5 separate regions of the Homo sapiens genome follow, and regions 2, 3, 4 and 5 are each linked to region 1. The links come from fine-mapping of genetic effects on gene expression. A gene starts in region 1. Each other region holds a variant in brackets. All regions are shown on one strand. Distances are between the middles of the regions.

Region 1 (5,103 bases):
TAGAAAATCCTAAGGAATCCACAAAAACAAGGTGATGAACCTTATGACACCCTGTAGAAATCCAGATTTCGTAGATTAGAAATCCAATGGCTTTGTTTAAACTGTCTCTTCCTCTGTTTTTACATTTTTTCCTCCACACTTGACAAAAACAAACCCAACTCTTTTTAAACCAACTTCCCTACCTCTTTCCTGCACTCATCCCTTCCTAAAGGTTTGCTCCTATAATTATTATCGTTGGAACTGCCCAACAAGACCCTCGTTTTCTATTTATCTGGATCTCCAGGCTCATTTCTTTCTTTGTATCCTATTTTCTATATCATGCTCAGAATTTTAAAGTTGCTTCCAGGCTGGGCGCGGTGGCTCATGTCTGTAACGCCAGCATTTCGGGAGGAGGGATTGCTTGAGTCCAGGAGTTTGAGACCGGACGGGCCAACATGGCGAAACCCTGTATCCACTAAAAATACAAAAATTAGCCAGGTGTAGTGGCGCGTGCCTATTGTCCCAGCTACTCGGGAGGCTGAGGTGGGAGGATCACCTGATCCTGGGAAGTCAAGGCTGCAATCAGCCAGATCACACCACTGCACTCCAGCCTGGGTGACAGAGTGAAATTCTGTCAAAGAAAGAAAAGAAAGAGAAAGAAAAGGAAGAAAGGAAGGAAGGAAGCGTATCTCCATTTTCATCCAAACAGGTATTTTTCTCTGCTACTACGTACCTCCTCAGAGCCCATCCCCCCTACTGGTCTGAGGCTTTTTTTTAAACAACTTTCTGGACATAGCCCCTCTTAAGACTAACAACCTATAGCCAGGCGTGGTGGCTCACGCTTGTAATCCCAGGATTTTGGGAGGCCGAGGCAGGTGGATCACCTGAGGTCGGGAGTACCAGACCAGCCTGACCAATATGGAGAAACCCCATCTCTGCTAAAAACACAAAATTAGGCTGGGCATGGCGGCGCATGCCTGTAATCCCAGCAACTCGGGAGGCTGAGGCAGGAGAACTGCTTGAACCCAGGAGGCGGAAGTTGTGGTGAGCGGAGATTGCGCCATTGTACTCCAGCCTGGGCAACAAGAGCGAAACTCTGTCTCAAAAAAACAAAACAAAACAAAAAGAGTAGCAACCTAGGCCGGGCGCAGTGGCTCACGCCTGTAATCCCAGCACTTTGGGAGGCTGAGGCGGGTGGATCACCTGAGGTCAGGAGTTCGAGACCAGCCTGGCCAACATGGTGAAACCCCGTCTCTACTAAAAATACAAAAATTAGCCGGGCGTGGTGGTGGGCGCCTGTAATCCCAGCTACTCGGAAGGCTGAGGCAGGAGAATTGCTTAAACGCAGGAGGCGGAGGTTGTAGTGAGTGGAGATCGAGCCACTGCACTCCAGCCTGGGCGATAGAGCGAGACTCCGTCTCAAAAAAACAAACAAACAAATAAACAAAAAGACTAGCAACCTCCTCTCCAGCAATGCCAACCCCAGTCCAGGCCCCCATCCGCCCAGGATCTCGATCAAAAAACATTAATCTGTGGCCTTTCTTTGCCATTTCCAACTCTGCCACCTCCATCGAACGACAAGGTCCCCTTCTTCCTTTCCATTCCCGTCAGCTTCATTTCCCTAATCTCCGTACAAATCCCTAGCCTGACTCCCTTTCCTTTCCATCCTCACCAGACGCCCGCATGCCGGACCTCAAAAGCGCAAACGCTAAAAACCGGTTGAGTTGACGCACGGAGAGAAGGGGTGTGTGGGTGGGTGGGTGTGTGTTAGTGTGCGTGCTTGCTTGTGTGTGGAAGAAACCAACAGGGTTCACGCTGGTGCCCATTTCTGGAAATGCCAATCGCGCCCGACTGCGGGAGCCAGGATCAGGTCCCCAGGGCGCCCTTGCAGACAGCACCCTGAGCGAAGGAGCTCAGAAGGCAGTCCGGCTTCACCCAGACCCCCAATCCCACAGAAGCGCCGTCCCCCAGCGGCACAGCACCCCCTCCCCGGCGCGGTGGTAGGGCCCGACGTGACGTCACCCATTGTTTACAAATCAACCCGAGCCGGCAGGATTCCGGCTCCCGCGGCTGCAGGCGCGCGGCTAGAGTGCCTGGCGGGCTCCGGCTTCCGCGTCCGCCCCGGCCCCGGTCCAGACTTAGTCTTCAGCTCCGCGCCCGCTCCGCCGCGGCCCACCGCGCCCGCCGGCAGCCGAGCCCCCAGCGACGCCCGCACAGCTCCGGGTGCCCAGACAGGGGGCCATGCCGTGCCGGAGGGAGGAGGAAGAGGAAGCCGGCGAGGAGGCGGAGGGGGAGGAAGAGGAGGAGGACAGCTTCCTCCTACTGCAGCAGTCAGTGGCGCTGGGCAGCTCGGGCGAGGTGGACCGGCTGGTGGCCCAGATCGGCGAGACGCTGCAGCTGGACGCGGCGCAGCACAGCCCGGCCTCGCCGTGCGGGCCCCCGGGGGCGCCGCTGCGGGCCCCGGGGCCCCTGGCTGCGGCGGTGCCGGCGGACAAGGCCAGGTCCCCGGCGGTGCCGCTGCTGCTGCCGCCCGCGTTGGCGGAGACTGTGGGCCCGGCGCCCCCTGGGGTCCTGCGCTGCGCCCTGGGGGACCGCGGCCGCGTGCGGGGCCGCGCTGCGCCCTACTGCGTGGCCGAGCTCGCCACAGGCCCCAGCGCGCTGTCCCCACTGCCCCCTCAGGCCGACCTTGATGGGCCTCCGGGAGCTGGCAAGCAGGGCATCCCGCAGCCGCTGTCGGGTCCGTGCCGGCGAGGATGGCTCCGGGGCGCCGCCGCCTCCCGCCGCCTGCAGCAGCGACGCGGGTCCCAACCAGAAACCCGCACAGGCGACGACGACCCGCACCGGCTTCTGCAGCAGCTAGTGCTCTCTGGAAACCTCATCAAGGAGGCCGTGCGAAGGCTTCATTCGCGACGGCTGCAGTTACGTGCAAAGCTTCCCCAACGCCCGCTCCTGGGACCTCTGTCGGCCCCGGTGCATGAACCCCCTTCGCCTCGCAGCCCTCGCGCGGCCTGCAGTGACCCTGGCGCCTCCGGGAGGGCGCAGCTCAGAACTGGCGACGGCGTTCTTGTGCCTGGCAGCTAACACGCCCGGGGTGGCCACAGCGCCAGCCTCAGACTGGAGGGCAAGGGGTTCCCTTGAGGGCTGCAGTTCTACTCAGGCTGGTGGAGAACTCTGGCTTTTGGAAGCGAGAGTAAAAAGCTAATGACGAGGAACCGAAAAATCGCGAGTGTTTCGCGGGTAACTGGGGTTGAGGGCCAAAATATTTGGAATGAAGGACTTTGGCCCTATTTAAGGCAGATTTTACAGAGCGCACCTCAAACGTACAAGTCAGTAGGACTCCTTATTTGGCGTGACCCGACCTGGCCGCGGAGCCTGCATTTCCTCGCAGCCTCTCAGTGCCCTCCAGCCCCGCGACCATGTGGCCACAATCCACGCTTCTCCGGATCGCGGTGCGCCGGAACCACGGAGGATGATGCCAGTTACTTGCTTTACCTTTTCAGGGCTGGCTCCTGATCCACTTTGGGGGAGGAGAACATGAGTAGATAATTTCAGGGTGCAGCCCAATCTGCCAGACTTAAAAAAACCATCTTGTGTCTTTGGAGGTGCTGCTTAATACCAAACATGCGGTGCCATGAAGGGACCCTTTGGGGGTTGAATAGGAGTTAACCCCTGCGCTCTCTTTGCAACTGTCTCTCTTCTCAGAGTGGTGGGGGAAGGCTGTACGACACGGGTGGGGAAAGGAGGTGGGGGCGGGGAGTATTGAATGGTGGTGGAAGGGTAGAGAGGCGCGGAGTGAACCCCACGCCCTGTCTAAAGTGTATTTTCAGAGCCGGCCCGCCTCTCCTCGGTTCAAGGTCACTGTTTCCTGGGCACGCACTGGGTTGCGGGACAGAGTAGCCAGGTTCTGCCGGTGCTCGGAGAAGAGCGCAGTGTTTTGCAAGTGCTGGAGTCTCCTGAGGACACGCGCGTCGCCGCCACCGCGGGTGTGGGAAAGCGCGGACGTGCTGGGCGGCTGTGCTTCGGTAGGCGACCACCGCCCCTGGCCGCGCTCCGGGCTTTCACGGAAACTCCCGAGACCGGGCCCTGGGTTCCTCCTCTCCTACTCGGCTCTGCAGTCCTACTCAAGCGGGTGGCTCTGGGATCCTGGGGGCCTGGGTTGGGGGCTAGGGAGACGCCATGTGATGGACACTCCAGGGACACACAGCCTAGCACAGCAGCTTATAATGGGCTCTCCGGGGCCATTTGCAATAACAGCTGCAATTCCCTGGATAGACGAGTTGATTTCCTCCCTCTGCCCCTCCCCCAGCCATGCCAGCTGGCCTTTGTAAGTGCAGGAAACCGAGTAGAAAATGTGACCCTCCAAATGGAGAAGCTGCAGGCTTTGCCATTGTGAACCATGGTGAAGTGCTTGGAACATACTGTTCACTCACTCTAAAGGCGCTGAGACTGTGCTGTTGTTCTCGTTTTTATAGTCAATGGCTTGTTCATCATCCAGATGTGGCTACTGACATATCTACACTTCGCACCGGAGTGTCTGGAATTGTGGCTATCCTGATTATAGGATTTTAACTTAACTGAAATGCCTGCTTTGAATAAATGTGTTGGGTTTTTTGTTTGGTTTTATTTTATACTTGCCATCAGTGAAAAAGATGTACAGAACACATTTCTCTGATCTCCATAAACATGAAAACACTTGAAATCTCTGTCAGCCTGGCTTGTGGATGGTAATTAGAGCGCCTTTGTGTCTGAGCAGCTCACTAGCTAGACAAGGTCTCCGCAGCTGGGTGTGTATTGGAGCTGGCATGAAATTAAATGAAAGTGAGGTCAGGTTTTGGACCAATCCCATTCGTTAAAACCTCAGAGCCTTTTGGATTACTAGTCAGTGATGGAGATGTGTTATAAAGCTGCCTCTATTAGCAAAGGACATCAGATCAGCCAGTCACTGCAAACTGGGAGGCTTATCTTTTTTTTTTTCTTTTTCTTTTTTTCTTCTTTCTCACCGTGGCCATTAAGTGCACTTGTTCCACAAGGTGGGCCTTAAGGCTGGGGCAGCTCTTGATTAGGAGACTGCTCACAATGTGAGCCTGGTGGTAGGAAAGCTGGGTGGAAACTTACAAAAGACTC
Region 2 (5,103 bases), 33 kb after region 1:
TGAAGGCGTTTTTAGATAAGTATTATCACACAATGATCCAATCGATACACATAAAATCTGCTCAGGGCAACACTGTGCCTTGTCATTTTTATGAGCATATTTACAACTGAGGGTTGGTCTCAGGTTATCTACTGTGTATGTAATTCAGGCTCAGTGGCCTCAAGTCCAAGAGCTATGGCATAGCAACTGTTCTGGTTAAAAACAAGACTTCTGGCCGGTCATGGTGGCTCACACCTGTAATCCCAGTACTTTGGGAGGCCGAGGCGGGCGGATCACTTAAGGTCAGGAGTTCAAGACCAGCTTGGCCAACATGGTGAAACCCCATCTCTACTAAAAGTACAGAAATTAGTCAGGCGTGGCAGCATGCACCTGTAATTCCGGCTACTTGGGAGGCTGAGGTAGGAGAATTGCTTGAACCCAGAGGTTGTAGTGAGCTGAGATCATGCCTCTGCACTCCAGCCTGGGTGACAGATTGAGACTCTGTCTCAAAAAAGCAAACAAACAAAAAACCAAGACTTCCAAGAGCTTGCAGAACCTTCACTGGTGGAGGACCATGAGGGCTATACAGGTTATTCCTGGCACCAGTTGCAAATCCATCTGCCTGTCATCAGTGCCTCACATCCTCTTTGAAATTCTGACTTAAAATCATCAGCTCTGTAATGGGTGATGGGTGACATCCCTGGAATTTGGAAATCAGGCTGCCCTCTGGAAGTTAAACCCTTCAAGTCTACACGAGGGACAGGATTAGTTATCTGAACAAGGCCCCAGAAGGAACAGGATGTCTCTCTGGTGAAAGCCAGAACTGGCCTTGGAAATTCAATCCAGGCATGCCTGCCTGTGAAGGAAGCCTTACTAAATCTCAGAACAGGCTGGGCCTGGTGGCTCACGCCTCTAATCCCAGCGCTTTGGGAGGCTGAGGCGTGGGTGGATCACCTGAGGTCAGGAGTTCGAGACCAGCCTGGCCAACATGCTGAAACCCCGTCTCTACTAAAAATACAAAAAATTAGCCGGGAGTGGTGGTAGGCATCTGTAAATCCCAGCTACTTGGGAGGCTGAGACAGGAGAATCGCTTGAACCTGGGAGGCGGAGGTTGCAGCGAGCCAAGATCGTGCCACTGCCCTCCAGCCTGGGCAACAAGAGCGAAACTCTGCCTCAAAAAAAAAAAAAAAAATCTCAGAACAGCTTCTGAACAGCAGGTAAATGGCTGCAAAGGCCCTACAAGATACCAGAGAGGAAGGATCTGTTCCATTCTGCAGCCAACCAAAATAGAGGGGCAGGGCCCCAACAGGCTGCTAGGAGAATGGGCCCCTGTAGGCAGATATATCCCCAGAGACAAAACTGTCCCACCCCAATGACAATATTATTCACATATCACTTGCATGATTCCATTTGCCCTGTTTTATGCCCCCAGTACAGAAAACACACTGGTTTCAGCTTCCTATGCAAGGGAGCATGTGCTGAGCAGTCACCTTGAGTATCTTGGGCAGTTATAGTTCTCATTATAAATTAATATATTATAATTTCGACTAGGTCTCATGTGAATCTGTATCTTCTTCTCTGAACCTGATCAATCCTGATTTTATCCTTATTTATTTATTTAGAGTTCCAGGCTGGAGTGCAGTGACTATAACAGGCTGGACCAAAGTGCATTGCAGCCTCAACCTCCTGGTCTCAAGTGATCCTCCCACCTCAGCCTTCCAAGTAGCTGGGTCTAGAGGCACATGCCACTGCACCCAGCATCAATCCCAATTTTAGACTTGTAAAGCTGATCTCCAGTCCTCAGCCCTGGAATGAGTATGCAGCAGCAAGCCACTACACCATCTACCTACGTTCTTAGTCAGTATTTACTGATGATTGACCACGGCCTCAAAACCCAAATCCAGGCATTTCCATGACGAATCATTGAGATTTGGAATGGGAGGAGGAAATGTGCCACTGCATCCCTGGCCTTGGATAACTCAGCTGGCCTCTAACAGCTTGGTGTTTCTAATGGCAGTAGCTACGTCAAGCATAATTTCAGGAAATGGCAAACCAGCTTACATTGTCCCAAATCAGGGTTATTTTCTGGAGTACAGTCATCTATCTATTCACAATAATGTATATCGAAAATAGAACATAGAGTAGTCATCACGGCATTTTCTAAATACTCCTTTGCACACGGTCTGGCATCTAGTGATGGCATTAAATTCCTGCATACAGCAAAGAACAACATACTTATGGACTCAAAGATGCTTTGTAAACTGAACTATGTCCGCTGGGCAGATGTTTAAAGCTGAGCTACTGAAAATGATGTTTATAGCCGGGTGCAGTGGCTCATGCCTATAATCCTAGCACTTGGGGAGGCCGAGGTGGGCGGATCACCTGAGGTTGGGAGTTCAAGACCAGACTGACCAACATGGAGAAACCCCATCTCTACTAAAAATACAAAAATTAGCTGGGCGTCGTGGTGCATACCTATAATCCCAGCTACTCGGGAGGCTGAGGCAGGAGAATCACTTGAACCTGGGAGGCAGAGATTGCAGTGAGCCAAGATCGCGCCATTGCACTCCAGCCTGGGCAACAAGAGTGATACTCCGTCTCAAAAAAGAAAAGAAAAGGAAATGATCTTTATGAAGCATTTACATTAGTATACGGTAAGAACTTTAGTCAAGTGCAAATTTAGAACACAAATTGTCCAGGCATGGTGGCTCATGCCTGTAATCCTAACACTTTAGGAGGCTGAAGCAGGAGGATTGTTTGTGTCCAGGGAATTTGAGGCTGCAGTGAGCTGTAACTGTGCCACTGCACTCCAGCCTGGATGACAGAGCAAGA[T/C]CTTGTCTCAAAACACACACACACATATATATATATAAAGTGTAAACTTGCATTTTAAAACATTTTTTTTTTTGAGATGTAGTCCTGCTCTGTTGCCCAGGCTGGAGTGCAGTGCCGTGATCTCGGCTCACTGCGATCTCTGCCTCTCAAATTCAAGCAATTCTCTTGCCTCAGGCTCCCAAGTAGCTGGGATTACAGGCACGCACCACCATGCCCAGCTAATTTTTTTGTATTTTTAGTAGAGACGGGGTTTCACCATGTTGGCCAGGCTGGTCTCAAACTCCTGACCTCAGATGATCCACCTGCTTTGGCCTCCGAAAGTGCTGGGATTACAGGCATGAGCCACCGTACCTGGCCCCATTTTTCCTTTTTTTGAAATAGGGTCTTACTCTGTTGCCCAGGCTGGAGTATAGTGACATGATATCGGCTCACTGCAACCTCTGCTTCCCAGGCTCAAGCTCTTCTCCCACCTCAGCCTCCGGAGGACCTGGGACTACAGGTGTACTCCATCACGCTTGGCTAATTTTTTGTAGAGACAAGGACTCACTATATTGCCCAGGCCAGTCTCAAACTCCTGGGCATAAACGATACTCTCGCCTCAGCCTCCCAAAGTGTTGGGATTACAGGTGTGAGCCATTGTGCCTGGCCTTACATTTTTTCCTTAATTAAAAAAAAAATAGCCCTACGTATATTAAGAAAAAAAAGAATGAAATGCACTAGTAATAACAGAATTTGGTGGAAGGATTTTAGCCCCTACTTTTACTTTTGTTTTTTCCAAATGTTCTGGGAATCTTTATCACTTTTGTAGTGAAATATATACGATTTTAATTTTTAAAATTACCCTTTGAGGAAACATAAGCAACCAAGAAAGAAAAAATGGGGAAAGGACTCTGAGGACTGAAAACAGGCTACCTGAACTTCATAAGCAATTTTGTTACATGTTGCAAACAGTACAGAAAAAACACCCTTCTTGGGACTGATCATGCTGTAAGTAGGACTAGCTCTAAAGATGGCCACTGGCAGGAATGAACTGCCAGGACAGTCCCCACCAAGCCTTCTGCCACAATCACGAGAAGGGAAATAGTGAAGGGGCAAGGTCAGTTTAACCTGACTCACCCATGGCCAGAAGTGTCACAATGTGGACATGACTAGACCGCCTTTGCAAATCCCCAAAGCTTGACCACTCCCTTGGCCAACTGCAGGGTTGCGGTTTTCGTAGTCAAGCAGGGTAGGACCTGTTTTCCATTTCTGAGAATGAGTGGAGGATGGACCCCAGAAAAGCAAGCCTCAGATTGACATTCCCAAAAGCACAAATTGAAAATCTGGAGAGTGAGAGCTCTCAACTTTCCTATTCACCCTAAAATTGGATGAATCTTTTGTTGATGAACACTCCTAAGACTCTCTTTCGCCACACTGTTGAAACAACACTGACTTTGTTTTTTTTTTTTTGAGACAGAGTTTCGCTCTTGTCACCCAGGCTGGAGTGCAAAGGCGCGCTCTCAGCTCACTGCAACCTCCGCCTCCCGGGTTCAAGCAATTCTCCTGCCTCAGCCTCCCGAGTAGCTGGGACTAGTGTGTGCCTCCACACCCAGCTAATTTTGTATTTTTAGTAGAGACAGGGTTTCACCATGTTGGCCAGGCTGGTCTTGAACTCCTGACCTCAGGTGAGCCACCTGCCTTGGCCTCCCAAAGTGCTAGATTACAGGTGTGAGTGATTGCGCCCGGCCTCAAGAACACTGACTTTCAAAATACACCTGAAGTTTCAGGGTGAAGATTAATTCTTGCCTCTGCATCAAGATCACTTGCATTTGAAGTCTACTTCCAAAAGAATATGGCATTCAGCACATCACTAACACCAACCTTTCTAGGTCACCTGCCTTTCCCATCTTTAAAAGAAAACAAAGTTCCTTGGAAAATGTGCTATATATAACAAGGAGGTTGGCTTCACGCTTTCTTTTTTTTTTTTTTTTGAGATGGCGTTTCACTCTTGTTGCCCAGGCTGGAGTGCAATGATGCGATCTCAGCTCACCCCAACCCCTGCCTCCCGGGTTCAAGTGATTCTCCTGCCTCAGCCTCCCGAGTAGCTGGGATTACAGGCATGCACCACCATGCCTGGCTAATTTTGTATTTTTAGTAGAGATGGGGTTTCTCCATGTTGGTCAGGTGATCCACCCGCCTCGGCCTCCCAAAGTGCTGGGATTGCAGGTATGAGCCGTGCCTGGCCTTTTTTTAAAAAACAAACAAACAACACCAATAAGCTGGGCGCAGTGGCTCACGCCTGTAATCCCAGAA
Region 3 (5,103 bases), 21 kb after region 1:
TTCTGGGGGCACCTCTCTGGAGAGCTCTGAGAGAGAGAAGTGCTGTGCTGGACCAGTGGGAGGCAGAGAAATGCCCTGGATTAGGAAGCAAAATACAAGATGCTAGAAAGACTCAGATGCAATTAAAAGTAATGAGACGGTATCAAAAAGGGAAGCGATGAGAACTTGTGAGCCCAGCACACTGGCTCCCTGCCTGGAAAGACACACTCTCGGACAGCATTCACAATCGCCCAGGGAAGAACAGAATTCAAGGGTTTTCTGCATTCACTTAGATTGCGTTGAAATTCTCTGCAAGGAGTTTGCTTTCCACACAGACCTTGTTTCAAGTTACCTGCCCTCAGAGACATTAGCTACAGTACAGTGGGATGAACACTAGGCTTGGGAATACCACCTGGATGGGGTCACTTTATCCTTCCGTGCCTCTGATTCCTCATCTGTAAAATGGGGGACGGTCCCTTCTTTATGAAATGGTTATATTACATGAGAATAATATGTATGGGAAGACTCATCATGTGGACCCTGAGGGTGGTGTTGGCATAGGTTCTAGGGAGCAGAAATACTCTTAGGGATGTTCGAGTTTTGTTTTTTGAGATGGAGTTTTGCTCTTGTTGCCCAGGTTGGAGTGCAATGGCGTGATCTCAGCTCACTGCAAACTCTGCCTCCCAGGTTCAAGCGATTCTCCTGCCTCAGCCTCTTGAGTAGCTGGGATTACAGGCAAGCGCCACCATGCCTGGCTAATTTTGTATTTTTAGTAGAGACGGGATTTCTCCACATTGCTCAGGCTGGTCTCGAACTCCCGACTGTCAGGCCTCTGAGCCCAGGCCAGGCCATCGCATCCCCTGTGACTTGCACGTATACATCCAGATGGCCTAAAGTAACTGAAGATCCACAAAAGAAGTAAAAACAGCCTTAACTGATGACATTCCACCATTGTGATTTGTTCCTGCCCCACCCTAACTGATCAATGGATCAATGTACTTTGTAATCTCCCCCACCCTTAAGAAGGTTCTTTGTAATTCTCCCCACCCTTGAGAATGTACTTTGTGAGATCCACCCCTGCCCACCAGAGAACGACCCCCTTTGGCTGTAATTTTCCATTACCTTCCCAAATCCTATAAAACAGCCCCACCCTTATCTCCCTACGCTGACTCTCTTTTCGGACTCAGCCCGCCTGCACCCAGGTGAAATAAACAGCCATGTTGCTCACACAAAGCCTGTTTGGTGGTCTCTTCACACGGACGCACATGAAACCAACCTCAGGTGATCTGCCCACCTTGGCCTCCCAAAGTGCTGGGATTACAGGTGTGAGCCACCGTGCCAGCCTGATGTTCAAGTTTTTTGGTTTTTGTTTGTTTGTTTTTTGTTTTTTTGAGATGGAGTTTCGTTCTTGCTGCCCAGGCTGGAGTGCAAGGCGGCAATCTCTACCGTGCCTGGCCAATACAACAAAATTTTATTCAGCCATGAAAAGGAATGAACTATTGATACATGCTATAACATTTTGCTCAAAAACATGCTGAGTGAAGCCAGACCTAATATAGGGCGGGCGCGGTGGCTCATGCCTGTAATCCCAGCACTTTGGGAGGCTGAGGTGGGCGGATCATGAAGTCAAGAGATCCAGACCATCTTGGTCAACATGGTGAAACCCCATCTCTACTAAAAAAAATACAAAAATTAGCTGGGCATGGTGGCACATGCCTGTAGTCCCGGCTGCTCGGGAGGCTGAGGCAGGAGAATCCCTTGAACCCAGGAGGCAGAGGTTGCAGTGAGCCGGGATCGTGCCATTGCACTCCAGCCTGGGCAACAGAGCGAGACTCCATCTTAAAAAAAAGAAAAAAAACAAAAAACAAAAAACCCATCTCTACTAAAAATACAAAAAATTAGCCGGCCGTGGTGGCAAGCACCTGTAATCCCAGCTACTTGGGAGGCTGAGGCAGGAGAATGGCTTGAACCCGGGAGGCAGAGGTTGCAGTGAGCTGAGATCACGCCATTGCACTCCAGCCCAGGCAACAGTGCAAGACTCTGTCTCAAAAAAAAAAAAAAAAAAGCTCATATATTGTATGGTACCAATTACATGAAATATCGACAACAGGTAAATCTATAGAGTTAGAAGCAGATTGATAGTTGATTAGAGCTGCGGGGGTGATTGAGGTAGGGGGTGACTGCTAACAGGCAAGGGGTATTCCTTTAGGGTAATGGAAAAATTTTGGAACCTGTTAGAAGTGGTGGTTGCACAGCATTGCAGGTGTACTGAATGCCACTGAAATGGCCACCCTTTGAAATCTCTATTTTTTTTTTTTTCTGAGTCTTGCTCTGTTGCCTAGGACAGAGTGGAGTGGCATGATCTTGGCTCACTGCAACCTCCACCTCCTGGGTTCAAATGACTCTCCTGCCTCAGCCTCCAAAGTAGCTGGAACTACAGGCCTTGCCACCACGCCCAGCCTTGAAATCGCTAATTTTAAGCAGGGCACTGGGCTGCAAGCTTGTAGTCTCAGCTACTTAGGAGGCTGAGGAAGAAGCATGGCTTCAGCCCAGGAGTTCAAGACCAGCTTGAGCACAAAGAGAGACCAC[T/C]TCCCCGCCCCACAGACTCTGAAAAAATAAATACATAAATAAAATAATAAAATGGCAAATTTTATGTTATGTGAATTTTGCCTCAATAAAAATAATTATATACTTTATGCAGTATTTGATCCACTTCTTTCTTCCTTTGTAGTTGGAACTGCAATCTAATCTATTTGCTGATGTAAAACAATCACATCTGGCCAAGCATGGTGGCTCATGCCTGTAATCCCAGAGCTTTGGGAGGCTAAGGTGGGAGGATCCCTTGAGCCCAGGAGTTCAAGACCAGCCTGGACAACATGGCAAAACCCCATCTCTACCAAAACAAAACAAAAAAACAATCAGCCAGGCATGGTGGGGTGTGCTTGTGGTCCCAGCTACTCGGGAGGCTGAGGCAGGAGAATTGCTTGAGCCCTAGAGGTTGAGGATCTATTGAGCTGTGATCATATCACTGTACTCAAGCCTGGGTGACAGAGTGAGAGACCCTGTCTCAAAAAAGAGAAAGAACAAACCTTCTTCATATTAGTGTGGGAGATAGCAACTCCACAATACCACTAGCACCACACAACCTGGAATAGCTATATAGATTGTTTTGAGAATTTTATTATTGCAATTTTTTTTTTAAGACAGGATCTCACTCTCTCCCCATCTGGCGTCCAGTGGCATGATCTTGGCTCACTGCAACCTCCGCTTCCCGAGCTCAAGTGATCCTCCCACCTCAGCTTCCTGAGAAGCTGGGACTACAGGTGCACACCACCACACCCAGCTAATTTGTAGATTTTCTATAGAGATGGGGTTTTGCCATGTTGTCCAGGCTGGTCTTGAACTTCCAGGCTCAAGCAATCCACCCATCTCAGCTCCCCAAAGTGCTAAGATTACAGGCATGAAGCACCACACCCAGCCTATTTATTTATTTTAGAGACAGGATCTCACTCTGCTGCCCAGGCTGAAGTGCAGTGGTGTAATCACGACTCACAGTGGCCTCAACCTCCTGGGCTCAAGCAATCCTTCCACCTCAGCCTCCCAAGTAGCTAGGACTACAAATGTGTGCCACCGTGCCTGGCTAATATTTTTTATTTTTTGTAGAAATGAAGTCTCACTGTGTTGACCAGGCTGGTCTCCAACTCCTAGGCTCCAGCCATACTCCCTTCTCAGCCTCCCAAAGTGCAATTCTCCTTCCTCAGCCACCGAAAGCCCTGGGATTAAAGGTGTGAGCCACTGCACCCGGCTCACACACATTTTGAGAATTTGAAAACAACTCTATTGTGTTAAATGCTGAAATTCTGAGGTCTGTTACAGCATCTAGCATAACCCTAATGCACAGGGATAAAGGTTATCAGGGAAAAGAGAGGTGGAGAGAGCGCAGCACATTTAAGTACCATGAAAAAGTTCATGAGTGCGGGTGGGCAAAGAGACCTGATTTGCATTTGAAGAGGAGCTCTACCCACAGAAGTGCCAGGCTTAGGGGACTGACAGAGGAGGCAGATCCCAAAGATGTGAACAGAGAAGGCAAACGCCAGTTTAGGACTGATGGAAAAATCGCAGGCTCTGATCAGACACAGCCCAATGCCTTCCTTCTTCTGCCACAGCCCAGTTGAGTTACTATTGGCCTCCATTCCAGACAGCTGCCACATTGTTTTCCAGCTCTCACAGGCCCCCTATTTCACAGAATCCCAGTGAGTGTCTCCTACACAGGGTGGCTTGCTTCATTGAGGCAATTCTGGGTGTCCCTCCCTGGGTAGTTTGGTTTCTTGGGGAAAAGAAAGGGCAGATGACTCCACCCATCTGCAGACCCCAACATGCAAGTACACTTTTTTTTTTTTTTTGGAGATGGAGTCATGCTCTGTCACCCAGGCTAGAGTGAAGTGGCATGATCTCAGCTCATTGCAACCCTGCCTCCCGGGCTCAAGCGATTCTCCTGCCTCAGCCTCCCAAGTAGATGTGATTACAGGCAGGCACCACAACTCCCAGATAATTTTTGTATTTTTAGTAGAGACAGGATTTCACCATGTTGGCCAGGCTGGCCTCCAACTCCTGACCTCAAGTGATCCACCGGCCTCGGCCTCCCAAAGTGCTGGGATTACAGGCATGAGTCACTGCACCCAGCCGCAAGTACACCTGATGCCTTCTCTTTACCATTTCAGATTCCTGCAGGTAGACACCAAGGATCTCCTCAGAGCCAGCGCTGATCTCATCCACAGAGGGATCACATGACCTCATCTGGGAAAATATAAACCCTACCCACCTGCCTGCCCATTTGGAAATGCAGACTGGAGGACGCTAAGTTCATTCTTACCTATGTACTAACAAGTACACAAGAAGATGCTCAATATCATTAGTCCTTGGGGAAATGCAAATTAGATTATAATGAGATTCCAGTGTACACCCACTAGAAGGCTATTAAAAAGGACAATACCAACTGTTGGCAACAATGTGGAGAAATGGAACCCCTCCTACGTTTCTGATGAGAATGTAAAATGGTGCAGATACTTTGGAAAACAGTTTGGCAATTTATTAAAAGATTAAATAAGCATAAACTTACTATAT
Region 4 (5,103 bases), 42 kb after region 1:
AGCTAAGCAGAGGTTGGGCAAGCAGCCCTGACCCCAGGTCTCTGCCTCATCAATTGGCAGGTACTCCTGCCTCAGCATCACTCCATCCCAGGGCACAGTAGGTGAGCTGGCCCTGGCTCATGGGTGCCACAGGCGGAAGAGCCATGAGGTTGTGCAGCTGCGTTATGATGCTCTAGGGCTGAGGACACACCAGCTACTGGAATCAGAGGCTTCCCACAGGAGCCCCTGGACCTCCAGATGCAAAGCAAGGGCTCTGCTGCAAGGGCTTGGGGGCAGGGGTCCTGCAAGGCTACCCTGGGAGGAAGGAAGCAGAGGTGAAGCCACCTTGGCACTTCTAGCAGCTGCTCTAGGAGGGCAACAGCTGGTGGGCCCAGAGATAGAAATAGAGGGGAACCCTCTGGCCAGACCCAATACCAACCTTCCCAGTTCCCAGCCCTGGCACCGGCCAAGTGGCTTCTCTAAACCCAGCCTGACTCGGTTGGTGCTCTTAGGGTGACCAAGAGAGGCAAGCAGCTCGCAGAAGGGACAGACTCAAGCCTCTTGGGAGGCCTGGGCGGGTGGGAAGGAGCTGTGGCTCAGGGCTCCTCAGAAGGCTGGTGGTTCCATGCACAGATCTCCTAACCCATAGGCTCTCTCACACCCCCAGGGCCCCTTAGACTCCAGGCCCATCTTGAGTGTCATATCAGCCAACCTCTGTTGGTGCCAAGTGAGTGCAACCAGGCTGTGCACCCTCATGGCCCTGCCACCCCTTCCTGTGACTCCCCTCCCTAATGCAGGTGACAGGGATCCATGTGTCCCAGGAGAGAGGAGTGGAAGCCTCACCTTGGTACTGAGGGGGTATCTCCAGCTCCTCCTCCTCAGCCTCTTTCTGGTGCTTGAGCTTCTGGTGCTTTTTCTATAGAGAGAGAATAGGTGGGTAGTGAGTGAACCAGGGGATGTGCCCACCCTCGGGAATGCCAACAGTAACAGCAGAGTACCCTGCATCAAGCAGGAGAGGCCCTCTGCTAAGCACCCCACCTCTCACTTACAGATGGGGAAACTAAGGCCCAGAGAGGGCAAGGAACTGTCCAAGATCACAAAGCCAGGCAGTGCAGAAGAGAAGCTCTGGCCATGTCCTGACTGCCGGGCTGGTGGCGGCCGTTCCTGCTCTTCCTTTCCACTCTGGGCCCCACCCAGGCCTGCAATTGCCCAGAGGGCTTCTGACATCAGCTTACCCAGCCTTCCTAATGGGGAAAATGAGGTCCCTGGCCTCTTCAGAGAGAATAGCTTTACCAGTTCTTTGCTTCACACAAACCCCACCCCACTCTCCCTATTAATCACTCACTTACTGATCCCCTACTAAGTGCCAGGCCCTGGGGACACAGGGCACAAGATCTAGTTCCTGTGCTCCACGGGCTCTCAGGCGGGTGGGAGACCCCTGCTCAAGCCAGTCATCACTGATCCTCAACAATGCTACCATCCCAGCAGGTATGATCATGGACAGTAAGACACGTCAGCTCGTCAATTATATTCAACAGGAAGTGACAGAGCACCTACTGTGCGCCTGGCACTGTGTTAGGCAGTCCAAGGGAAGGAGGGAGAGCCCGACAGCGGCCCCAGCCCATCAGATGTGAGCCTAGAACCAACAACCAGGCCAGGCAGAGGCGTGCTGTGCAGGGAGGGCAGGCAAACAGAGGTGGCCCCAGCTGGCAAGGCTGGTCCCTGCACTGTGGTCTGTGCCACTGTGCCCCAGAAACCTCTAGAAACTGCAGATTCCCAGGGCTCCAGCTACCCAGGGGATCCAGAGGCCAACCAGGGGAAAGGTATGCCAGGTAAAGGGATCGGCCTGGGCAGAGCGAACAGGCTGCAGCACACACAGGGTGTGCCTGGGAGACGGGGGACTCCAGGTCCACTGGCCGAAGCCCAGCTGAGTGGGCTCCTAGTGGAGAAACAGGAACCGGGAGGAAGCTGACTCCGACTGCAATGTAGGGGATGATGGCTGAGCTGGCTCTTGGTTCAGCTGGTGCTTGGCCAACAGCCCAGCCTGCTGGCCCTGAATGGAGGCAGCTACTTGAACCCCAGCACTTCATGCTTCCACAATGGTTGGCCGAGGAGTTAGAACTTGGCCGGGCCCGGTGGCTCACGCCTGTAATCCTGGCACTTTGGGAGGCTGAGGTGGGTGGATCACGAGGTCAGGAGTTCGAGACCAGCCTGACCAACATGATGAAACCCCATCTCCACTAAAAATACAAAAATTAGCTGGGCGTGGTAGCATGCACCTGTAATCCCAGCTACTCAGGAGGCTGAGGCAGGAGAATCACTTGAACCTGGGAGGGGGAGGTTGCAGTGAGCCGAGATTGCGCCACTACACTCCAGCCTGGCGAAAAAGTGAGACTTCATCTCAAAAAAAAAAAAAAAAAAAGAGTTAGAACTAAGTGCCATGCAAGAAACCCTCTGGGGGTCTCAGTGGCAGGAGCCAGCCACAGAATGCAACTGCCCTGGGGCCCTCTCAGTGCCTGGAGACAAGGCATCTGCTCAGTCCCGCTCTGCCCGGGGCAGTGGGGGACATCCTTAGAAAGCCGTGGTCGGTTCTCCCCGGCCAGGGAGAGGAGTAGGCTGCCGAGGATCTGCAAAGCCACATGTGAAGATGTGCTTAAGGAACCCAGGAGGCTTTGAATGGAAAAAGATTTCCAGGAAAAGTGAATAATCAAGTCACAA[T/C]GGCTTACTTTGCATCACTAAGTGGCAAGCACTGTACACAGAAACAAAGACTTGAGCCCAGGCAGTCTGGGCCCAGACACACGTTTGGCAGACGACTGCCATCACCTGGAGAGGGAGACTAGACTGGCCTGAGGGTGGCCTCTCGGAGGGGCCCATGTCAGACCAAGCAGAGGAAGGACTCCCAGTAGGTGAAGCTGTCCCACAGGAGTGGTTGCCTGGGCGCAGAGAGGGGCAGGAGGGTTTTCAGCAGAAGCCCCACTGCTTTTCCTCAAGGGCATCCCAGAGGGGCTTCCCGCATCAGAGGCTGCTCAGGTCCTCAGCTACTCTCTGACCCAAGACTCTGGATATGTACTCAGCTCTTCAAACAGAATTCTGCGCTGTCACAATGCTCTAATAACAAACTCCTCCTCGGGCCACACTGGGCAGATGGACACTTGGCAAGGCATATGGGCAGACATTGACAAACATGACGCCAATGAAAACGGGGATGTGGGGGAAGTCTGTAACACTTCAGGCACTATGCTAATGCACTTTACACGCCCAATCTTACCAAACTGTCCCAATGACTCCACCAGGTGGTCTATTTATAACCCCACTTTACAGATCAGGAATTGAGGCTTTAAAAGGTTAGGCTGAAGCCAAGATGGGACCCCAGAGTCTGCCGCTTCCCCACCGATATCACTATACCCTGATGTAGGCTCTGTCACCTACGGGTGGTGCCCAGGAAGGCTGGATGGGCTGGGGCATAGTCTGGAAGGGCAGAGAGGGAAGAAACTGCTCCAGAATGGAAATGTTCCACTGAGCTTGAGACTGACAGGTGTTGGGTGATGGGTTGGGCCCACTTCACCCTTGTTGGTTCAGGTGGGGCAGCTGAGAGGCTGTTTCCATCCTGGCAGGCAGCACTGCCAGGTCAACAGGGGTAATGGTGGCAAAGAGGTTGAATTCCTGGGCTTAGGAGACTGGAAAACCAGGGTTCAAATTCCTGGTTTGCACAGACTGAGTCCTGTGACCCTGGGCAGGCTACTTACCTCTGTACGCTCCTCTGGTCACTGGGACAACGGAGTCCCTATCTTCGTGAGGCTATGTGGGGCCCTCAGCACAGTGCTGGGCACACAGCCATGCTCCCCTACGGTGGATGCCCCCACCCCATGCAGGAGCACACAGGGAAGCTGCTGCCCTTGCCCCTGCATAGCACATGCCCTCGCTAGAGAGACAAGGGTCTCTGCCTTCTTTCTCCTTTAACTAGACAACCATCACCCTGTCCTGCCTGGCACCCACAACCTTCTGGACCGCCTGCTATGCACACCTGTGAGGATGCACCGAGCATTCCAGAAACAGGGCAGTTCCAATGTCTACGTGTGGTGGGGGTGAGAAGCTGTGGAGCCCAGGCTTAGGTCTGAAGCCCTAGCCCCCCATCTGCAGGAACTACTCACATTCCTGATGATCACATCTTCCATTGGGTCAGCCATCTCTTCATCTTCGCCTGGAGCCAAAAAAGAGAGGCCCATGAGCGCTGTGGGAGCTCCTCAAAACCTACCCTTTCCTTCTGCCCCCTCCTGGCTCACCAGGCTGCGGGGCCACCAACTCCGGCCCCAGAAAATTGCCTTCCTCAGACCAATATCATCCTTCTGCTAGAAGAGATGAGACCCCTGAGCACTGCCCCTTTCTCCTTCCCACCCTAGGCCCTAGGGATAACGGCCCCTCAAAGAAGCGGTGATCCTACTTTTGAGGTGAATATGGCTTCGTTTGAAACTTTTCTTTTCCCACTCACCCACCCTTCATCTGTTTGAGATTTGAAGAAAGCCCCAGGTTTCCGGGGGAGTCAGGCGCTCCTGCAGCCCCATACACACCCCCACTGTGCCAGGAAGGCTTCATTCTCCTGTTTGAAATCTCTGCCCCATGCAGTATGTGCTGGGCTCCATGTGGGAATATAAAGTATGAAACTGACCAATTGGAGGGAAGAGAAACTCAGGCAAAGTCAATCAACAACCAAAAGACGATAGAGAGCACGTGACCGGCCATGTGTGGTGGCTCACACCTGTAATCCCAGCACTCTGGGAGGCCGAGGAGGGAGGATCACCTGAGGTCAGGAGTTCAAGACCAGTCTGCAACATGGCAAAACCCCATCACTACTAAAAATACAAAAATTAGCTGGGCATGGTGGCGCACGCCTGTAGTCCCCGATACTTGGGAGACTGAGGCAGGAGAATCACATAAACTCAGGACATGGAGACTGCAGTGAGTCGAGATCGAGCCACTGCACTCCAGCCTGAGTGACAGAGCGAGACTCTATCTCCAAAGAAAGCACATGACCAAGGGCTGAAGACTGGGTTTCCTCTGGGCTTGGCAGGAGTTCTGGGGGAATCAGGCCTAAAGGCTGAGGTGCCCAGGAAGGGCTACAAAAGG
Region 5 (5,103 bases), 34 kb before region 1:
CGCCCGGCTGTTACTATGTAGTTTCTATGGCCTAGCTGAATTTAGTTTATATCGGGTAACAGTAGCAAAACATCAGCACAAAATAAATAGGCTCCAGCATCTGTAGAAACAACCCACCCTAAAAGATGGTTAGTAAAAGTGTAGGTGAGAGTGTTCACTGAAGGTGACCAGAGGGCATCTTCAGGAGGCTGAGGTGGGTGGATCATGAGGTCAAGAGTTCGAGACCAACCTGGCCAACATGGTGATACCCCGTCTCTACTAAAAATACAAAAATTAGCCAGCATGGTGGCGCATGCCTGTAGTCCCAGCTACTCGGGAGGCCGAGGCAGGAGAACTGCTTGAACCCAGGAGACGGAGGCTGCAGCAAGCTGAGATCATGCCACTGCACTCCGGCCTGGGCAACAGAGTGAGACTCTGTCTCAAAAAAAAAAAAAATTGTATTTCAATCACTCTTTTGCTATACTGTTTCCAACCAGAAATGATGCACTTATTGGGAGGAAACTGGGAAACCAAGATAGAAATCAGATCTTGGATGGGTCATATTTTAGATAAGAGGCATTACAGTTTAAGACTCAGAAGGAACCAGACATGGTGGCTCACACCTGTAATCCCAGCACTTTGGGTTGCCAAGGTGGGAGGAGTACATGAGCCCAAGAGTTTGAGACCGCCTAGACAACATAGTGAAACTTCATCTCTATTAAAAAAAAAAAAAAAAAAACTGTCTCAATATTAATAATGGTTGTATCTATCTGGTAAATTGGAGTGGCTAGTTTACCATTTTTCTACATATTTTTCTTTCCTTTTTTTTTCTTTTTTTTAGAGACAGGGTCTCACTCTGGCACCCAGGCTGGAGCACAGTGGTGTCATCATAGCTCACTGCAGCCTTAAGCTCCTAGGTTCAAGCAATCTTCCCACCTCATCCTCCCCAGTAGCTGGGACTACAGGTGCACACCACCACACCTAGCTTTTTTCTCTTATTTTTATTTGTATTTTTTGCTTTTTGTTTTTGAGACATTGTCTCACTCTGTTGCCCAAGCTGGAGTACAGTGGTGCAATCTTGGCTCACTGCAACTTCTGCCTCCCAGGTTCAAGCGATTCTCTTGCCTCAGCCTCTTAAGTAGCTGGGATTACAGATGTGCGACACCATGCCCAGCTAATTTTTGTCTTTTTAGTAGAGACAGGGTTTCACCATGTTGGCCAGGCTGGTCTCGAACTACTGACCTCAAGTGTTCTGCCCACCTTGGCCTCCCAAAGTGCTGGGATTATAGGCGTGAGACACTCAGACCAGCCCCCATTTTTTTCTACATATTTTTCTAGCCTTCTGTAGTAAATATTATATAAGTTTATTTCATAGTGGGGAAGAGGGGAAAAAAGTATATACTGGGGGTTTTTTGAGGCAAGGTCTTGTTCTATTGCCCATGCTAGAATGGTGGCATACTCACGGTTCAGTGCATCCTTGACCTCCCAGGCTCAAGCAATCCTCCTGCCTCGGCCTTCCTAGCAGCTGAGACCAGAGGCATGTGCCACCACGCCTGGCTAACTATTTTTATTTTTAGTAGAGACAATGTCTTGCTAGGTTGCCCAGGCTGGTCTCAAACTCCTGGGCTCAAGTGATCCTACCACCTCAGCCTCCCAAAGTGGTAGGATTACAGATGAGAGCCACCACTTTTAGCCAAACTATATACTCTTAACAAAAAAGAAAGAAAGAAAAAAAAGCATATACTTTTTTTTTTTTTTTTTTTTTCCTGTGAGACTGAGTCTCGCTGTGTCGCCCAGGCTGGAGTGCAATGGTGTGATCTTAGCTCACCACAACCTCCGCCTCCCAGGTTCAAGCGATTCTCCTACCTCAGCCTCCCAAGTAGCTGCGATTACAGGTGCATGCCACTGCACCCAGCTAATTTTTTGTATTTTTAGTAGAGACGGGGTTTCACCATGCTGGCCAGGCTGGTCTTAAACTCCTGACCTCAGGTGATCCGCCCGCCTCCGCCTCCCAAAGTGCTGGGATTACAGGCATGAGACACTGTGCAAGGCCGAAAGTATATACTCTTAAAGCTTCAATGGATTTGTAGGTTGTAGATGTTCCATATAAAAAATGGCTGGACACAGAACAATGCGAATGTAGTTAACATTAATTAACTACACACTTAATAGGTAAGATGATAAACTGTTATGTTTTTTAATACAATTTTTTAAAACAAATTTATTTTTATTTATTTTTTTTAACAACAGGGTCTCAGTCACCCAGGCCAGAGTGTAGTGGCGGCATTCTAGCTTATTGCAGCCTCAAACTCTTGAGCTCAAGTGATCCTCCTGCTTCAGCCTCCCAAGTAGCTGGGACTGCGGGTATGTGCCACCATACCTAGATAATTTTCTCTTTTTTTTTTTGCTTTTTTTTTTTTTTTTTTGAGACAGAGTCTCTCCCTCTGTTGCCCAGGCTGGAGTATAGTGGCACAATCTCGGCTCACTGCAACCTCCAGCTCCCAGGTTCAAGCAATTATCCTGCCTCAGCCTCCCTAGTAGCTGGGATTATAGGCAACCGCCACACACCCAGCTAATTTTATATTTTTAGTAGAGACAGGGTTTCACCATGTTGGCCAGGCTAGTCTCGAACTCCTGACCTCAAGTGATCTGCCCGCCTCGGCCTCCCAAAGTGCTGCGATTACAGGCGTGAGCCACCATGCTTGGCCTAAGCCAAATGTAATGTTTACAGCAAAAAGTTTACAGATTTCCTATATCACTCTTTATAACACTACCGACCCAATTGTTCTGACCAAAGTAAACTTGTGCAACAATATCTGCTTTGCTTTATGCTGTGGTTTCATGCCACTTACCAGTTTATGCAGATTAATTTTAAAATTCTGTTTTCTTCCTTCCCCTCCTTCCAAGACAGGCCTTATTTACAAATATGATCAAACTCTCTAAACCTGATCATTGATAAAATGTAAAATAAAACCAGATTCAAGAAAATCCCCTGAAGAAATCTACTCCTCATTACCCTTCAGATAGAATTTAACAGCACAAATACAAAACTAGATTCAGGTTTTCTCACTTAA[C/CT]TGTGCATGTAAGAACAGACAAGTCTTCCTGGGATCAATAAAGGTTTAAACCTTTTAAACCATTTTTCTCGAAGGAACACATTACTGTCTTATTACAGAAAAAGCAATTTAACCAAAAGGCTCAGGCCAGGCACGGTGGCTCACACCTGTAATCCCAACACTTTGGGAGGCCAAGGTGGGTGGATCACCTGAGGTCAGGGGTTTAAGACCAGCCTGGCCAACATGATGAAACCCCATCTCTACTAAAAATACAAAAATTAGCTGGACGTGGTGGCACATGGCTGTAGTCCCAGCTACTGAGGAGGCTAAGGCAGGAGAATTGTTTAAACCCAGAAGGCGGAGGTTGCAGTGAGGCACGATTGCGCCACTGCACTCCAGCCTGTGCCACAGAGCGAGACTCCGTGTCAAAAAACCAAGGCTCAGAAGTCATGTTTACTAACCAATATTCCATACCTAAGGTATATGTAAATTAACAAGACATAGAACCCTTTCCACATCTTCAGACACCTCCCCTGTCCTCCAGAAACATTTCCAGGCATTCTACTGTCTGTTCCTAAGCTGGCTCTTCATGTAATAATAGTTAGCACTTTCTTTTTAAGTCTCTTTTTAATTAAAAAATACTAAGCTGTGCGTATTTCCCTACTGCCAATTATGAGGAGAAGTAGCTTTATTTCATTTCCTGCTTTCGCCTTTTCTCTTTGACCCTTAAAGGTCTGTATTATGTTTATACTATTATTGATAAAGTGGATAGTTTTTTTTGTTTTTGTTGTTGTTGTTGTTTGTACAGGGTCTCACTCTATCACCCAGGCTAGAGTGCAATGGCAGGATGATGGCTGTTTGCAGCCTCCACCTCCCGAGCTCAAGTGATCCTCCCACCTTAGCCTCCCAAGTAGCTGGGACCACAGGCGTGCATCACCACACCTGGCTATGTGTTTTTATTTTTTTTATAGGATCTCCCTATATTGCCCAGGCTAGTCTCAAACTCCTGGCCTCAGGTGATCTTCCTGTCTCTGCCTCCCCCTCCCAAAATACTGGGATTACAGGCGTGAGCCACCATGCCTGGCAGTGGATATTTTCTATTTGTGATTCCCCTTTAGTATTGTCTGCTTAAGAGTAACTTGAAGGTATAAGAAATGAAATGTGTTAAATTTTAAAGGACCATTCTACTTAATAAAAACCAGAAATGGAAGGGAGGGGGTGTTCCTCATCAACAGGTCAAAAACATAACATGGGAATCTTTATAGGCAGAGCAATTTTTCCTTGTTTAAATCTTTGGCCAGGTGCAGTGGCTCACACCTATATTCCCAACACTTTGGGAGGCCAAGGCAAGAGGAATGCTTGAGCCCAGGAGTTTGAGGCCCACCTGGGCAATATAGGGAGACTCAGTCTCTAGAATAAATTTTAAAAATTAGCCGAGTGTGGTGGCGCATGCCTGTAGTCCCAGCTACTTGAGAGGCTAAGGTGGAAGGATTGCTTGAGCCCAGAAGGTCATGGCTATAGTAAGCCATCATCATGCCACTACACTCCAGCCTGGACCACAAAGTGAGATCCTGTCTCAAAAAAAATCATAATAAGTTTTTTAAAATAAATATTTTGGCTGGGTGCGGTGGCTCACGCCTGTAATCCCAGCACTTTGGGAGGCCAAGGCAGGCAGATCACCTGAGGTCGGGAGTTCAAGACCAGCCTGACCAACACGGAGAAACACTGTCTCTACTAAAAATACAAAATTAGCCGGGCTTGGTGGCACATGCCTGTAATCCCAGCTACTCGGGATGCTGAGGCAGGAGAATCTTTTGAACCCAGGAGGTGGAGGTTGCGGTGAGCCAAGATCGTGCCATTGCATTCCAGCCGGGGCAACAAGAGCGAAACTCTGTCTCAAAAATAAATAAATAAATAAATATTTTATTAAAAGAAGTTAAAGCATTTGTAATTATTAGGAGCAGTGTTAAAATAATGATGAAAAAACAAAAAGCTGGGCAGTTCTAAATGATCACATATTCTGCATTCAATATTTACATATGTATTCATCTGTGCAAATCAGACCATTTTT

Which allele goes with the higher level. Positions count from the first base shown, and alleles are read on the strand shown. Sizes are in standard deviations (SD) of each study's normalised expression. Not every link is listed here.
For the expression in sun-exposed skin of the gene that starts at base 2,038 in region 1, allele C in region 3 goes with a lower level than allele T (small effect, 0.15 SD a copy in GTEx).

Evidence for each region. PIP is the estimated chance that this variant, and not a neighbour inherited with it, causes the effect.
Region 2: its variant is fine-mapped to the expression of FRAT1 in whole blood (INTERVAL, PIP 0.96).
Region 3: its variant is fine-mapped to the expression of FRAT1 in sun-exposed skin (GTEx, PIP above 0.99).
Region 4: its variant is fine-mapped to the expression of FRAT1 in whole blood (INTERVAL, PIP above 0.99).
Region 5: its variant is fine-mapped to the expression of FRAT1 in whole blood (INTERVAL, PIP 0.97).

The regions. Positions count from the first base shown.
Region 1 is chr10:97,317,234-97,322,336 of GRCh38, forward strand. It overlaps FRAT1 (FRAT regulator of Wnt signaling pathway 1), which reads left to right and starts at 2,038. Exons shown (of 1, transcript NM_005479.4): 1 at 2,038-4,682. The coding sequence starts at 2,221. The coding sequence ends at 3,060. RefSeq lists enhancers at 1,352-2,141, 1,879-2,173, 3,263-3,422 and silencers at 2,013-2,322, 2,823-2,922.
Region 2 is chr10:97,350,218-97,355,320 of GRCh38, forward strand. No RefSeq gene overlaps it. Among named protein-coding and RNA genes, the nearest start is that of FRAT2, 18 kb to the left of the region's middle. The variant T/C (reference allele first, on the strand shown) is at 2,812.
Region 3 is chr10:97,338,107-97,343,209 of GRCh38, forward strand. LOC105378448 (a long non-coding RNA gene) reads left to right here. Exons shown (of 2, transcript NR_188201.1): 2 at 4,701-5,097. Among named protein-coding and RNA genes, the nearest start is that of FRAT2, 5.9 kb to the left of the region's middle. The variant T/C (reference allele first, on the strand shown) is at 2,569.
Region 4 is chr10:97,359,724-97,364,826 of GRCh38, forward strand. RRP12 (ribosomal RNA processing 12 homolog) reads right to left here. Exons shown (of 34, transcript NM_015179.4): 30 at 4,131-4,180; 31 at 823-895. Among named protein-coding and RNA genes, the nearest start is that of FRAT2, 28 kb to the left of the region's middle. The variant T/C (reference allele first, on the strand shown) is at 2,698.
Region 5 is chr10:97,283,133-97,288,235 of GRCh38, forward strand. All of the region lies in intron 1 of ARHGAP19 (Rho GTPase activating protein 19), which reads right to left. All of the region lies in intron 1 of ARHGAP19-SLIT1 (ARHGAP19-SLIT1 readthrough (NMD candidate)), which reads right to left. Among named protein-coding and RNA genes, the nearest start is that of ARHGAP19, 7.0 kb to the right of the region's middle. The variant C/CT (reference allele first, on the strand shown) is at 3,054.